2 separate regions of the Homo sapiens genome follow, and region 2 is linked to region 1. The links come from fine-mapping of genetic effects on gene expression. Tissue or cell type: sun-exposed skin. Region 1 holds a variant in brackets; the other region holds the start of a gene. All regions are shown on one strand. Distances are from middle to middle.

What was found. PIP is the estimated chance that this variant, and not a neighbour inherited with it, causes the effect.
Region 2: LINC00847 starts here. The variant in region 1 is fine-mapped to the expression of LINC00847 in sun-exposed skin (GTEx, PIP 0.96).

What each region holds. Positions count from the first base shown.
Region 1 is chr5:180,177,944-180,186,045 of GRCh38, forward strand. The region is part of intron 1 of RASGEF1C (RasGEF domain family member 1C); the gene reads right to left. Among named protein-coding and RNA genes, the nearest start is that of RASGEF1C, 27 kb to the right of the region's middle. The variant G/C (reference allele first, on the strand shown) is at 4,187.
Region 2 is chr5:180,825,921-180,834,022 of GRCh38, forward strand. LINC00847 (long intergenic non-protein coding RNA 847) reads left to right here and starts at 5,037. Exons shown (of 3, transcript NR_045679.1): 1 at 5,037-5,309; 2 at 6,753-6,940. It overlaps HEIH (hepatocellular carcinoma up-regulated EZH2-associated long non-coding RNA), which reads right to left and starts at 5,698. Exons shown (of 1, transcript NR_045680.1): 1 at 4,034-5,698. It also overlaps a transcript of ZFP62 not described here. RefSeq lists silencers at 5,263-5,312, 5,673-5,802, 6,243-6,412.

The DNA of each region.
Region 1 (8,102 bases):
ATGCCTGAAGCCCACCTTGGGCTTTTTTTTTTTTTCTTTTTGAGGTGGAGTCTCGCTCTGTTGCCCAGGCTGGAGTGCAGTGGCATGATCTCGGCTCACCGCAACTTTCGCCTCCCAGGTTCAAGTGATTCTCCTGCCTCAGCCTCCTGAGTAGCTGGGACTACAGGCGTGCACCACCAAGCCTGGCTAATTTTTTTTTTTTTTTTGTATTTTTAGTAGAGACAGGGTTTCACTGTGTTAGCCAGGATGGTCTCTATCTGGCCTCGTGATCTGCTTGCCTCAGCCTCCCAAAGTGCTGGGATTACACGTGTGAGCCACTGCACCCGGCTGGCTTTTTTTTTTTTTTTTTTTTTTTGAGACGAGTCTCACTCTGCCACCTAGGCTGGAGTACAGTGGCGTGATCTCAGCTCACTGCAGCCTTTGCCTCCTGGATTCAAGCAATTCTCCTGCCTCAGTCTCCCAAGTAACTGGGACTACAGGCATGTACTACCACTCCAGGCTAATTGTTGTATTTTTAGTAGAGACGGGGTTTCACCATGTTGGCCAGGCTGGTCTCGAACTCCTGACTTCAAGTGATCTGCCCGCCTCAGCCCCCCAAAGTGCTGGGATTACAGGTGTGAGCCACCGTGACTGGCTATCCCAGGGCTTTTTATTTACAGAAGCAAATGCGTTTTCTGAGTCCTTAAGTCTGAGGTGGGTTTCTCCACTTGAAATAGAAAGAACCTAACACCCCAGCTCTGAAGTGCACCATCACCAGCTGCTGCTGGCTTTCATCACCGGCTTTCCACGCAGCAGACCACGGCGCAGATGTGGGCGGGGTCCTTATTGGCCATGAGACCCCGGGGCGTCACTTTCCTCAGACAGCCTTATATGTAAAATGGGCCTAATGCACCCCCGGCTGATATGTGGAGGGGACAGCTGGTCTAAAATTCAACAGCAGAAGGGACTGGAGAATGTTCTTGGGGGGGGAGGGGCGCAGGTGCCAAGGAGCGGAGTGGGGAGGAAGCCAAGGACAGCAAGGTCTGAGGGCTGAAGCAGGATGAGGGAGGCCCCCGGCCATGGGGCCTGGGGCCGGGAGGAGGCGGGTTTATGACCATGGGATAGTCCTGCAGCGTCTCTGCCTGCTGAGTGAAGAACGGGCTGGGGCTGGAGGGAGAGTCGTGGGTCTGGATCGAGCTGGAATCAGGGGCATGCAGCCCAGTGCCTGCATTCTGCGCAGATTGGGAGGGTGGCGTGCATGGGCCGTGTTGATGTTTGGATGCAGGAGGGGGACTGCTGACATAAAGGGAGCACTCAGCCCCCGGGGTTTGTGCGTTACCCACCTGGGTGACTTGTCTGAGATGAGGGAGGCTGCAGGGAGAAGGGAGTAGAGGGTGGTGGGAGGTAAGAGCAGCAGGAAGCCCAGGGACAGGAGGGGGCTTGGAAGCCCAGAGGGCAGCATTTCAGGAGAGAAGGGCCGATGGATGGGCCAGTGGTGCACAGGGAGTGGAGCAGCCCAGGGAACCCATGGTGTGCTGAGCAGACCAACCCAGGACAGGGGCGTGAAGGCAGAAGCCAGCCTGCACCAGCCTGCACCGACACCTTTGACCTCAGACCCAGCAATTACCCTAAGGAGCTAACCCAGCAAGAAAGCAGTGATCAATACAGCAGCTGCCAGGGTGAGGAGGCTCCCACGCTGCCGAGAGGCTGGGAAGGAGACGCGTCCTGCCACTGGGCGTCAGGTATGCAAACTGTGGTCTCTCCATTCAAGGAATACTGAAAGGAACCCTGAGGAAGAAGCTCTGAGCTACTGAAGGAGAGAAGCCAAACAATGCACACTATGCTTCGGATGAATGGATCTTTGCAAAACAAAAACGTACATCTCCGTGTACCCAGAGATAAGTCGTGTACATTAAATGATAGCAGACTCATGATGTGGAACTGGGGGAGTAAGAGGTGTCAGTTTCCTCCTTTACCCTCTCTACATTCCTGGCTTTGCGTCCGTCAACGAGTTTTTATTACTTTTACCAACAGAAAGAAAAGCACAAAGGAAAGGAAGGACCGGGCGAGTGGGCAGAGAGAAGGTGGAGTGCAGTGATGGAGCTGCCAGCTAGGCGGGGGCAGGCCAGGGCCACCCCAAGCCCTGGGAGGCGGTGGCCTGCTCACACTGCCTGTAGCACATCCACCAGCAGCTCTGGGGGGAAAGCCAGCAGCCAATTACACAAAAAGGCAGCGGGCACAGCTGCCTCTCTCTCCAGCCACTCTCAGTCTGTGGAGGTAATAACAAGTAGAAGCATTTAGGGCATGCTTGAGTTCGACAAAGAGCAGGTCTGATTGACTCCAAGTCAGCTGTGCACATGCAGGCTGGTGGAAAGGGTGGCCTGGCCGCTGCTGTCAGATTTATGACAGCCACAAAGCTGCCTCTTTCCTAAAGCCAGTGCCACCACTGCTGCTGTTTGAGACGAGCTCCACGACCCAAAGCAGTCAGAAGACAAACTGGCCGGTGCACCATGCTTTGGTTTGCAGTCAGACTGACATGTGCACAGTACTTAACAATTTGCAGTCTGACATGTGTGTACCTCACTTCACAGTTTGCAGAGTCCTTTCAGAGATGTCATTGCTCCTGAGTCCCAGGTCCCTGCCCAGAGGTGCCAGGAGCAAAGCCGCTGCCCCAGACTGGCCATCGGTGGGAGCACCCCAGGACCTGGCTCCTGCCCAAGGAACGGCCAAACCCATTGCCACAAGCAGGGGCCCTGGTGCCTCCAGCTTCTCTTTTCAGCCAGCATGGCTGTGGTTGTGTTGTTTACCTTTTTACTGGAGTATAACCTACATCCTGGAAAGCACACAAGCTTGAAGCGTGCAGCTAGATGAGATCTCCGAAGTGAACCAGGCCACCAGCACCCAGATTGAGAAGCAGAACATTTCCAGACCCTGAAAAGTCCACCTGTGCCCCTCTTCACCCACTAACCCTTTAATTTCAATTGCAAAGAAACACCAAGAGGGATCGCCGCATACAGCACTATCAATCAATGTTCACACAAAACTAGAAATGGGAGGGATCACCACGCAGGGCACTATCAATCACTGTTCACACGAAACTCGAAATGCGTCACGCCCAGGTGGGTACCTGTCCTAAATGCAGGAGCAAGAGGACGAACAGGAACCCCACGTGGCTGCGGACTACTAGCCTGGGGCTCTGCCCCTCCCATCACTGGCAGTCAGGCAGTGCCTCCCCAGGATGTGCCAGTCCTGCTGGGCTGCAATCCCACCGGGATCAGGGACAAAGGAAATGGCAGCTACCAGGTAAACATAAAAGACTTAAAAAATGCCTTTAAAACATACTTGAGTGTTTAAAGCAAAAATAATACTGTAGTGTGGGGTTTATAAATATGTGGAAAAGAGATGTATGACAACACTAGCATTGTCGTCGGTTGGACTGAGTCCCTCCTAAACAGATGACTGAAGTCCTCACCTCCAATATCTCCAAAACGAGGCCTTATTTGGAAATAGGGTCACTGCAAATGTAATGAGTGAAGAGGAGGCCACACTGGAGTGGAGTGGAGTGGGGTGGGGTGGACTCCTAATCCAACATGACTAATGACCTTAGAAGACGTGGGCACACAGGAAGAGCACCATGTGACACTGAGGGCAGAGACTGGAGTGATGCGGCTTCAAGCCAAGGAATGCAGAAGATTTCTAACAAGCCGCCAGAAGCTGGGAACAGGCAGGGAAGGGTTCTATTGGGTTCAGAGGGAATGTGTCCCATGAGCCCCTGATCCAGAACTCCAAATGAGAGAACACATTTCCGTTGTTTTAAGCCATCCCAGTCTGTGACACTTTGTTAAGGCAGCCCTAGGAAAGTGATACAAACACAAGGCTGAGTGGAGCATGAACGCCACTGGCAGGATGTCTTCATGCTATATATGCAGCAGCACACTATTGAGACCACAGTTTCTTCGGTTGGTTTGTGGTCTCGCTGACTTCAAGAATGAAGCCATGGGCCGGGCGCAGTGGCTCACGCCTGTAATCCTAGCACTTTGGGAGGCCGAGACGGGCGGATCACGAGGTCAGGAGATCGAGACCATCCTGGCTAACACGGTGAAACCCCGTCTCTACTAAAAATACAAAAAAAATTAGCCGGGCATGGTGGCGGGCGCCTGTAGTCCCAGCTACACGGGAGGCTGAGGCAGGAGAATGGCGGGAACCC[G/C]GGAGGTGGAGCTTGCAGTGAGTCGAGATCGCGCCACTGAACTCCAGCCTGGGCAACAGAGCAAGACTCCGTCTCAAAAAAAAAAAAAAAAAAAAAAAAAAAGAATGAAGCCATGGACCTTCACAGTGAGTGTTACACAGCTCTTAAAGGTGGTGTGTCTGGAGTTTCTTCCTTCCGGTGGGTTTGTGGTCTCGCTGACTTCAAGAATGAAGCCGCGGACCTTCACGGTGAGTGTTACAGCTCTTAAAGGTGGCGCGGACCCAAACAGTGAGCAGCCGCAAGATTTATTGTGAAGACCAAAAGAACTCAGCTTCCACAGCTGGAAGAGAACCCCAGCAGGTTGCCGCTGTTGGCTGGGATGGCCAGCTTTTATTCCCTTATTTGTCCCTGCCCATGTCCTGCTGATTGGTCCATTTTACAGAGTGCTGATTGGTCCATTTTATAGTGTTGATTGGTGCATTTTTACAGAGTGCTGATTGGTGCTTTTACAATCCCTTAGCTAGACACAGAGCACTGATTGGTGCATTTTTACAGAGTGCTGATTGGTGCTTTTACAATCCTTTAGCTAGACACAGAGCACTGATTGATGCGTTTTTACAGAGTGCTGATTGGTGCTTTTACAATCCTTTAGCTAGACACAGAAAAGTTCTCCAAGTCCCCACTGGACCCAGGAAGTCCAGCTGGCTTCACCTCTCACTATCACCTGGAGGGAGACTGGGATCAAGCTGTGGTGGTCAGAAGAGTTCTAAGATGGCCCTGGATTCCTACTCCCTGGTGTACACACCCCATACAATCCCCTCTCCTCTTAGGTATAGGCAGGACTGTGAATATGATGGATGTCACTCCTGTGATTAGGTGATGTTATCTGGCAAAGATGAAGGGAGTTTTGCAAGTTTAAGTAAAGCCTGTAATCAGTTGACTTTGAGATCATCAAAAGGGAAATTATGCTGCATGAGTGTAACCTAAACAGATAAGCTTTTTTAAAAAAAGGTCAGATACTTGCATCAGAGACTCTCCTGATGGTCTTGAAGAAGCAAGCCACCATGCAGTCTACAGTGGCAAGGAAATAAATTCTGCCACCAGCCACATGAGCTTGGAAGAAGACACTAAAACACAGATGAGACCCAAGCCCCACACTTGTGAGACCCTGAACCCCTGACTCATGAAAATTCTAAAATAATAAATTTGTGTTTTACATTACCAAGATCGGTTTAATGTTTTGGGTAGCAACAGAAAAGTAATGCAATGAATGATACCTAAATTAAGCACTAAAATAACACAGCAAAGGGATATAGCTTAAAAAATCAACAAAGGACATAAGCTAGAATCATAAAAAAAAACCCAATTAATTCAAAAGAAGTCAGAAAAAAAAAAAGATACAAGGAAAAACATATGAAACAATTAAAAAATAAAGGCTAGGCATGGTGGCTTACACCTGTAATCCCAGCACTTTGGAAGGCTGAGGCAGGTGGATCACCTGAGGTCGGGAGTACAAGACCAGCCTGACCAACATGGAGAAATTCCGTCTCTACTAAAAATACAAAATTAGCCGGGTGTGGTGATGCATGCCTGTAATTCAACTACTTGGGAGGCTAAGGCAGGAGAATCGCTTGAACCAGGAGGCAGAGGTTGCAGTGAGCCAAGATGGCACCACTGCACTCCAGCCTGGGAAACAAGAGCAAAACTCCATCTCAATAAATAAATAAATAAATAAATAAATAGATTTCAGAATAGATTTCAGATCAAATAAATAAACAGCCGGCCGGGTGTGATGGCTCATGCCTATAATCCCAGCACTTTGGGAGCCCGAGGCTGGCAGATCTCTTGAGGTCAGGGGTTTGAGACCAGCCTGGTCAACATAGTAAAACTCCATCTTTACTAAAAATACAAAAATTAGCCGGGTGTGGTGACGCATGCCCAGCTACTCAGGAGGCTGAGGCACAAGAATCACTTGAACCTGGGAGATGAAGGTTGCAGTGAGCAGAGATTGCACCACTGCACTCCAGCCTGGGCAACAGAGCGAGACTCCATCTTGAAATAAATAAATAAAAATAAATAAATAAATAAATAAATAAATAGAAGGTGGTTAATTTAAATCCAACAATATCTTAATCACATTAAATGTAAATGTTCTAAACAATCCAATTAAAAGGCAGAGATTTGGGCTGGATGCAGTGGCTCATGCCTGTAATCCCAGCACTTTGGGAGGCCGAGGCGGGTGGATCACCTGAGGTCAGGAGTTTGAGACCAGCCTGACCAACATGGTGAAATCTTGTCTCTACTAAAAAAATACAAATATAAGCCAGGCATGGTGGTGTGCACCTATAATCCCAGCTACTCGGGAGGCTGAGGCAGGAGAATCGCTTGAACCCGGGAGGTGGAGGTTGCAGTGAGACGGGATCGTGCCACTGCACTCCAGCCTGAGTGACAGAGCAAGACTCCATCTCAAAAAATTAAATAAATAAATAAAATAACATAAAAGGCAGAGATTTTCAGATTGGATATGAAAGCAAGAACCACATAAATGCTGTCTACAAGAACCCAAGTTTAAATACAGAGACATAAATAGATTAAAAGTGAAAGTATGTAAAAAGGAAAGAGAGCTGGTATGTCTATAATTATTTTATCTATATGATTATCGGAATAGATTTCAGATCAAATAATAGGATAGTAAAGAAGGCCATTCCATAATGACAAAGGGTCATCCATAAAGATGATATAACCATCTTAAGCATGTGTTCACCTAATAACAGAGCTTCAGAATACATGAAGCAAGAACTGATAGAACTGCGAGAATAAACAAACCACAACCTTAGTTGAGATTTTTGTCATCTGTTTCTCAATAATGGATAAAACCAGCAGATAGAAAATCATGAAGGAGGGCCAGGGGCGGTGGCTCACACCTGTAATCCCAGCACTTTGGGAGGCCGAGGTGGGCGGATCACAAGGTCAGGAGATTGAGACCATCCTGGCTAACACGGTGAAACCCCATCTCTACTAAAAATACAAAAAATTAGCCGGGTGTAGTGGCGGGCACCTGTAGTCCCAGCTACTTGGGAGGCTGCGGCAGGAGAATGGTGTGAACCCGGGAGGCAGAGCTTGCAGTGAGCGAGATCGCGCCACTGCACTCCAGCCTGAGTGACAGAGCGAGACTCTGTCTAAAAAAAAAAAGAGGCCAGTTACAGTGGCTCACGCCTGTAATCCCAGCACTTTGGGAGGCTGAGGTGGGCAGATCACCTGAGGTCAGGAGTTTCAGACCATCCTGGCCAACATGGTGAAATCCCATCTCTACTAAAAATACAAAAATTAGCCGGGCATGGTGGTGTGTGCCTGTAATCCCAGCTACTCAGGAGGCTGAGGTAGGAGAATCACCTTTACCCGGGAGGTGGAGGTTGCAATGAGCCAAGATTGTGCCATTGCACTCCAGCATGGGTGACAAGAGTGAAACTCCATCTTAAATAAATAAATTTAAAAATGAATAAATAAATAAATAAATAAATAAAAAGGATAATAAGAAAATACCATGGACAAGTTTATGCCAATCAGTTGAAAATTTAGATGACATGCAAAAATTATTCGAATGATACAAACTACCAAATCTCACAAAAAATAGATAACCTGAATGACTATATCTATCAAAGAAATTTCAACTGGAGTTAAAAACCTTCTCATAAGGAACAAGACAAAGCCAAGCGTGGTGGTTCATACCTGTAAACACAGCACTTTGGGAGGCTAAGGCAGGCACATAACTTGAGTCCAGCAGCTCAAGACCAGCCTGGGCAACATGGCATGACCCTGTCTCTCCAAAAAATGCAAAAATTAGCCAGGCATGGTGGTGCACACCTGTGGTGCCAGCTACTTGGGAAGCTAGATGGGCAGGCTGATTGAGCCTGGGAGGTCGAGGTTGCAGTGAGCC
Region 2 (8,102 bases), 650 kb after region 1:
CTGTAAAGACTGGGCCCTGCCTTTCCCCTGCCCATCTGCTGGGGACATGGTAGGACTGCAGCAGTTGCCTGGCCCAGAGATAGACGGCACAGCTATCCTGCTGGTCCTACCTCTAGACCGCCACATGTACCTCACTTACACTGCTTGGGTTTTGCATCTTAAAACCCCAATTAGCACACCATTCATTCATTCATTCCCCCATCAACAAGTATGTACTGAGTGTCTTTTTGCCAGGCATTGCACTAGGTTTTGGAGAGATGACAGTGAACAAAAACAAACTTGGCTGTTCTGTATCTTGGCTGTGGCAGTGGTTACACAAGCCTACACATGTGATAAAACTGCATAGAACTAAATACACACACACAGAGGAATGCCAGTCAAACTGGGAATTAAAGAATCAAAAAGTCACTGGTGACTCAACATGGCAGCAGTCCAGCTCAACCATACAGATGACAGCAGTGTGCTGAAGTATGACAAAGGAATGATTTAAAAGGAATTGAGGCAGAGCTGCCAGGCAGGCATGCTCACCTTGGACTTTGAAGCAAGAGAGACATAAATAAAGGTCTTTGTTCTGTAAGTAGAGTGTTCATATAATTTATCATCCAAACTGAGACACCTGTGAAAATAATTACACTGGAACAACTTGTGTGACTGATCAGCTGGTCACTCCATCTTTAAGTCATTGTCTTGTTGAGTCTGTTATCAGAGCCCATGGAGTGCCATGCATGGACAGCTTATTTAGGCACAACAGAGAAAAATTAAAGGGAAGGAGGAGCAAGGAAGAGTGGAAAGGATAAAGAAATGGTGAGCATTGGCAGGAAACAATGCAAGGAGAAAAGGGAACAGGAATCGGATTTTCTACTAATTTGCTGTGTGTTCCTGTGTCAGTTTATAAATTAGTGTCTATATTTACAACCGATTGGAAGAACGAACTTTTTAGATCCTCTCATCCAACAAAGCTGCAGATTTCTTTATTGAGATGGAGTTGAGAAAGCTTTAAAACAGGCCAAAGCAACATGAGGACATGTGTCATGAGAAGAGAAATGGTCTTCCATAAATTGAGTGCTGGGGAAGGCTTGGTGTAGGTAATGTAGAGGTTCTCAAACTGTGGAGAAGCTCAAAATGTGTTCCTTTGAGCCTTGGTCTTCTAGTTAGGCCACTGTCTAAGCCACTATACAAAAAGACACCAAACACACTGGCTTCAACAAGACAAGCCTCTGTTTCTCTTTCGGGTGACAGGAGAAGCAGAGGACTAAGCTTTCTTTTCCAAGTCATCACCTGAAAGTTGCCCCTTCACTTCTGCTCACATTGCATTGGCCAGAGACTTGAAAGGAAGCTGGGCACGTGCTGTGGGGAAAAGAAAGAGAGATCAGATTGTTACTGTGTCTGTATAGAAAGAAGTAGACGTAGGAGACTCCATTCTGTTCTGTACTAAGAAAAATTCTGCCTTGAGATTCTGTTAATCTGTGACCTTACCCCCAACCCTGTGCTCCCTGAAACGTGTGCTGTGTCAACTCAGGGTTAAATGGATTAAGGGCTGTGCAGGGTGTGCTTTGTTAAACAGATGCTTGAAGGCAGCATGCTCCTTAAGAGTCATCACCACTCCCTAATCTCAAGTACCCAGGGACACAAACACTGCGGAAGGCCGCAGGGACCTCTGCTGAGGAAAGCCAGGTATTGTCCAAGGTTTCTCCCCATGTGATAGTCTGCAATATGGCCTCATGGGAAGGGAAAGACCTGACCGTCCCCCAGCCCGACACCCGTAAAGGGTCTGTGCTGAGGAGGATTAGTATAAGAGGAAGGCATGCCTCTTGCAGTTGAGACAAGAGGAAGGCATCTGTCTCCTGCCCGTCCCTGGGCAATGGAATGTCTCGGTATAAAACCCAATTTACGTTCCATCTACTGAGATAGGGAAAAACCGCCTTAGGGCTGGAGGTGGGACATGCGGGCAGCAATACTGCTTTGTAAAGCATTGAGATGTTTATGTGTATGCATATCTAAAAGCACAGCACTTGATTCTTTACCTTGTCTATGATGCAAAGACCTTTGTTCACGTGTTTGTCTGCTGACTCTCTCCCCGCTATTGTCTTGTGACCCTGACACATCCCCCTCTCGGAGAAACACCCACAAATGATCAATAAATACTAAGGGAACTCAGAGGCTGGCGGGATCCTCCATATGCTGAACGCTGGTTCCCCGGGCCCCCTTATTTCTTTCTCTATACTTTGTCTCTGTGTCTTTTTCTTTTCCAAGTCTCTCGTTCCACCTAACGAGAAACACCCACAGGTGTGGAGGGGCAACCCACCCCTTCAACGTGCCCTGCCAAACCTCTGGTGGTAAGGCTTCGATTACTAAATGGAAGAAAGGGACACAGGGTGTTTTGGAGTTGACACCTAGCTCTTTGGAGGTGACTCAGATCACTCAGGAGAGTCCGTAAGGCCCGGTGGGCAACACCCCAATCCTCCAGTCTCTACCCAAGAAGCTCCACCTTCATCTATTTGAGGGTTCTATGTTGCGGGAAGTCAGGGACCCCGAATGGAAGGACCAGCTGGAGCTGTGGCAGAAGAACATAAATTGTGAAGATTTTATTTTAATATGGACATTTATCAGTTCCCAAATAATGCTTTTATAATTTCTTATGCCTGTCTTTACTTTAATCTCTTAATCCTGTTATCTTCATAAGCTGAGCATGTATGTCACCTCAGGATCACTATGATAATTGTGTTAACTGTACAAATTGATTATAAAACGTGTGTTTGAACAATATGAAATCAGTGCACCTTGAAAAAGAACAGAATAACAGCAATTTTTAGGGAACAAGGGAAGACAACCATAAGGTCTGACTGCCTGCGGGGTCAGGCAAAAAGAGCCATATTTTTCTTCTTGCAGAGAGCCTATAAATGGACGTGCAAGTAGGGAAGATATTGCTGAATTCTTTTCCTAGCAAGGAATATTAATAATTAAGACCCTGGGAAAGGAATGCATTCCTGGGGGTAGGTCTATAAATGGCTGCTCTGGGAGTGTCTGTCCTATGCGGTAGCGATAAGGACTGAGATACGTCCTGGTCTCCTGCAGTACCCTCAGCCTTATTAGGATTGGGAAACTCCATCCTGGTAAATTTTTGGTCAGACCGGTTCTCTGCTCTTAGACCCTGTTTTCTGTTAAGGTGTTTATCAAGACACTACGTGCACCACTGAACATAGACCCTTATCAGGAGTTCTGCCTTTTGCCCCTTGTCCTGTTTCCTCAGAAGCATGTGATCTTTGTTCTGCCTTTTGCCCTTTGTCCTGTTTCCTCAGAGGCATGTGATCTTTGTTCTGCCTTTTGCCCTTTGTCCTGTTTCCTCAGAGGCATGTGATCTTTGTTCTGCCTTTTGCCCTTTGTCCTGTTTCCTCAGAAGCATGTGATCTTTGTTCTGCCTTTTGCCCTTTGAAGCATATGATCTTTGTTCCTACTCCCTGTTCGTACACTCCCTCCCCTTTTGAAATCCTTAATAAAAACCTGCTGGTTTTACGGCTCAGGTGAGCATCACGGTCCTACCAATATGTGATGTCACCCCCGGTGGCCCAGCTGTAAAATTCCGCTCTTTGTACTCTTTATTTCTCAGCCGGCCAACATTTATGGAAAATAGAAAGAACCTATGTTGAAATATTGGGGGTGGGTTCCCCCGATATCTGGCCCCTATCGGGTTCCCCCGATAGTTCTATCTAAATTTTTATCTGAAAAATAAGTTTCTCTGCTTTAAAAAAGAAACTTTGAAGACCATTTTACAGAAGAATTGGTTTGCCAAGGTGGAAAGAGAAGCTCATCAGTGACGTGACTTAGCCAAAAGCACTGGTTATACCTCTATACCTCGGAGCCGACACTGAAAGCCCCGGCCATAGTCTTTCTGCCCCAAGGAAAGCCTGGGGTGGGGGTGGGTGATATTGTCAAGAGCCAGGCCCCAGCTCCTCATACACACAGCTCATTTGCTCTCCCTCCCAACCCCCACCTTCATACTTCTTCCACACGCATACCAAAGAAAATAAGAATCTCAAGGTTGGAAAATCCCACTTTACTTCAAGTGAAGTCACTGGGTTGTCCCCATGAAATATCTCCACAATGGGTGTGCTAGACCTTTACTCTCTGTGGCACCACCAAGACCCCCTCACCCTGCCAGAGCCCTCTGAAGTGTACTCAGAATGGAGGGGCTGGAAGTGGGGCCAGTGGTCCTGGTAGTCAGCCTCCCCTTCTGACACAAGAATTATCGTGGAACAGCTTGTGTGACCGATCAACTGGTCTCTCCATCTTTAAGCCATTGTCTTGTTGACTCTGTTACTGCAGAGTTTGGGGAGGTCTCATGGCTTCTCGCATCCTATTTCCTGAGCTTCCCTGAAGCCAACTTCTGGCCACTGGTATGTGATGCGAGCACAGTGCCTCCTCCTGCTCCTCCAGGAAGCTTCTGCTGATTGAACGCAGGCCAGATGGCGAGATCCGGAGCAACCTTCTTAGATCAAGGGAAGAAAGGGGCACAAGAGGGGAGTAGGTAACAAGATAAAAGGAGCTCCCTCCCTGATGACTACAGAGCCATCGTGGCAGCCCTGGGCCTCCATTTCAGACGTTCATCTTGCCTAAGCCACCACCATCAGGGTCTCAGTCAGTCATCATTCTCATTTACTCGGGTGGCTGGGTGAGGGCGGAATACTACCTTCCAGCTGTCTGAGATTAAGCCTAAGCCACCACCATCAGGGTCTCAGTCAGTCATCATTCTCATTTACTCGGGTGGCTGGGCGAGGGCGGAATACTACCTTCCAGCTGTCTGAGATTAAGCAGAACAGCAGCTAAAGCAGTAACAGCAGGTCTCCTTCAGCAGCTTGCCACAGGGAAGAGGGTCCCGCGTGAACCGAACTCAACTTCCACCTGCGCAGAGGTAGCTACCATTTGCGTAGAGGTAGCTGGGTCTTTAAGGTTAGAGGGAAGGCGCAGGGAGGGAGAGACGGCGGGTGGGGGTTGAACAAAGTGGAGATTCACAAAAGCAGACTAGGGCGGGCGACGTGATCAGATGACCTGTGCGGGCGGCAGCCTCCTGCCCTCCTCCCCTTCGTGCGCCGGCTGGAGCGAAGAGTTCTTTTGACAGCCGTGAGCTTCCCCGCCAGGAACTTACTGGGGCTGCATCACCCTAGAAACGTGGCTTTGGGCTGTGGAAACGCTGCCTCTGTGGAAGTCTCTCCTCGCGGGGGTGGACGGGTCGCTGCGCGCCCAGCGTTCTTCTGCGGTTCTCACAGCCCGCCGCCGCCGCCGCCTCGGGGACCTTTGCGGGGAGGCCTCAGGTCAGCGCCGCCCTTGCGATGGCGGGAGAGCAGAGCGGCCCCAGGGCCTCTGAGCTCCGGCCCCGGCACGTCCCGCCCTCTCCTCCGCTTGCGGGAGCCGGGGCGCCTCGGAGGGAAACCTTCCGGACACAGGCCGGGAGAAGAGGGGCCGTGGCGCCATCGCGCAGCTTCCTGGTTTCGGCCATGTTTTTTTTTTTTTGAGACGGAGTTTCGCTCTTTTTGCCCAGGCTGGAGGGCAATGGCGCCGTCTCGGCTCCCTGCAGCCGCCGCCTCCCGGGTTGAAGGGACTCTCCGGCCTCAGGCCGCGGTGTTCTTGTAAATTAGAACCGGCCTATGCGCCAAGCGCGGGTCTCGCGGCTGCGGAGAGAGGCCCAGCAGGGGGCGGGGACGCCGGGAGGCGGGGCCTGGCCGAGCTGCGCACACCCGGGTGGTTCTGGCTACGGGTACCCGGACCTGCCCAACGACCGTTCTCCATTCCCGACCTCCGCACCCTACCCGGTCCGCAGGGCACCTTCCTCCTCTCTCTCAGGCACGTCCTCGACCTCAGTTGCCACGTGCACATGCTGGTGCCTTCCAGGTCGGTCTTTCTCCACCAGACTCCACCTGGAACTTTCTTCCTTTTCGTCCTGTGCTGGCCTAACCCCTGCTCGGCCTCGGCCCTCAGCTGCCGGCTCTAACAAAGCCTCTGTCTTTCCCAGACCCCTGTGACCAGGTCAGGCTCTGCTCCCTGCGTTCCTCTCTCCTTGCTTCCCTCCTCCTCCCCTCCCCAGAATCGCTTGAACCTGGGAGGCAGACGTTGCAGTGAGCTGAGATCGCACCATTGCACTCCAGCCTGGGTGACAAGAGCGAGACTCCATCTCAAAACAAAAAACAAAAAACACAACTCTTGCTGGCTCCTTGATTTTAGCCCAGTGAGATTCACTTCTAATTTCTTTTTTTCTTTGAGACAGTCTGTTCTGTCACCCAGGCTGGAGTGCAGTGGCGTAATCATGGCTCACTGCAGCCTCAACCTTCCTGGACTCAAGTGAACCTTCCACCTCAGCCTCCCAGGTAGCCGGGACTACAGGGGTGCACCAGCATGCCTGGCTAATTTTTGCATTTTTTGTAGAGATGGGGTTTCACTATGTTGCCCAGGCTGGTCTGAAACTCCTGTGCCCCAGCAGTCCTCCTGCCTTGGTCTCCCAAAGTTCTGAGATTACAGGCATGAGCCACTGCGCCTGGGCTTCCATTTCTGATTTCCAAAACTCTAGGATAATAAATTTACATTGTTTTAAGCCACCAAATTGTAGTAATCTGTTACAGCAGCAATAAGAAATGAATACAGCCATGCTTGATAATTCCTTTATCAAAAGCTACCTATTGGTGTTAGGAAGTATTGTTTTAAATTCTAAGACAGTGTTTTCACTTTCTATCTTGTGCACTGACTACCTCATGACCCCTTAGGTACCAGTCAGGACTGGTAGACTTTAATGTGGAGAACTTCTGAAACAGCAGTTCTCAAAATGTTACCTCCAGACACACAGAATCTGCATCACCCAGGAACTTGTAACCATGCAAATTCTCAGCCACCCAGACTTCCTGCATCAGAAACTCTGGGGCCCAGCAGCCTGTGTTTTAACAAAGCCCTTCAGGTGATTCTGACACTTGCTCAAGTTTGAGAACCGCTGTTCTAGGAGCTGGTCCTGCAGGGAAAGGGTGGCCTCTCAGTTCAGGTTCCAGTGTGGCTGGGGGTGGGGGTCAAGGTGAGGGTTTGGTTGTTGTGTCTGACAGTCAGCCAGGCTTGAGCACACGGACTGTTTACAAGGCTGCACTTTCCATGTTCTGGTCAGCAGTCTCCTGGTTCATTCCGTTACGAATGGACTGTCACCCCAAAATTAATGTTGAAATCTATTTCTCTATTTGGAGGTGGGGCCTTTGGGAGGTAATTAGGTCATGAGAGTGGAGCCCTCATGAATGGAATGACTGCCTAAGAGAACAGAGATGGCTCACACCTGTAATCCCAGCACTTTGGGAGGCTGAGGTGGGCGGATCACGAGGTCAAGAGATCGAGACCATCCTGGCTAACACGGTGAAACCCCATCTCCACTAAAATACAAAAAATTAACCAGGTGTGGCAGCGGGTGCCTGTAGTCCCAGCTACTCAGGAGGCTGAGGCAGGAGAATGGTGTAAACCTGGGAGGCAGAGCTTTCAGTGAGCTGAGACTGCGCCACTGCACTCCAGCCTGGGCGATACGGTGAAACTCTGTCTCAAAAAAAAAAAAAAAAAAAGAGAACAGAGAGCTAGCTTGCTGATTTTCTGCCATATGAGGATACAGTAAGAGGGCAGCCATCTGCAACTTGTAAGATGACCCTCACCATAACGTGACCATGCTGGCACCACGATCTCAGACTTCTAACCCCCAGAACTGAGAAATAAATTTCTCCACCACTCTATGACACGGTATTTTTTTTTTTTTTTTGAGATGGAGTCTCGCTCTATTGCCCAGGCTGGAGCGCAGTGGCACGATCTCGGCTCACTGCAACCTCTGCCTCCCGGGTTCAAGCGATTCTCCTGCCTCAGCCTCCTGAGTAGCTGGGATTACAGGTATGCGCCACCACACCTGGCTAAGTTTTGTATTTTTAATAGAGATGGGGTTTCACCGTGTTAGCCAGGATGGTCTCGATCTCCTGACCTCATGATCCGCCCGCCTCGGCCTCCCAAAGTGCTGGGATTACAGGCGTGAGCCACTGCGCCCAGCTGGCATGGTATTTGTTATAGCAACCCAAGCTAAGACACTCCATGTTATGGACTGA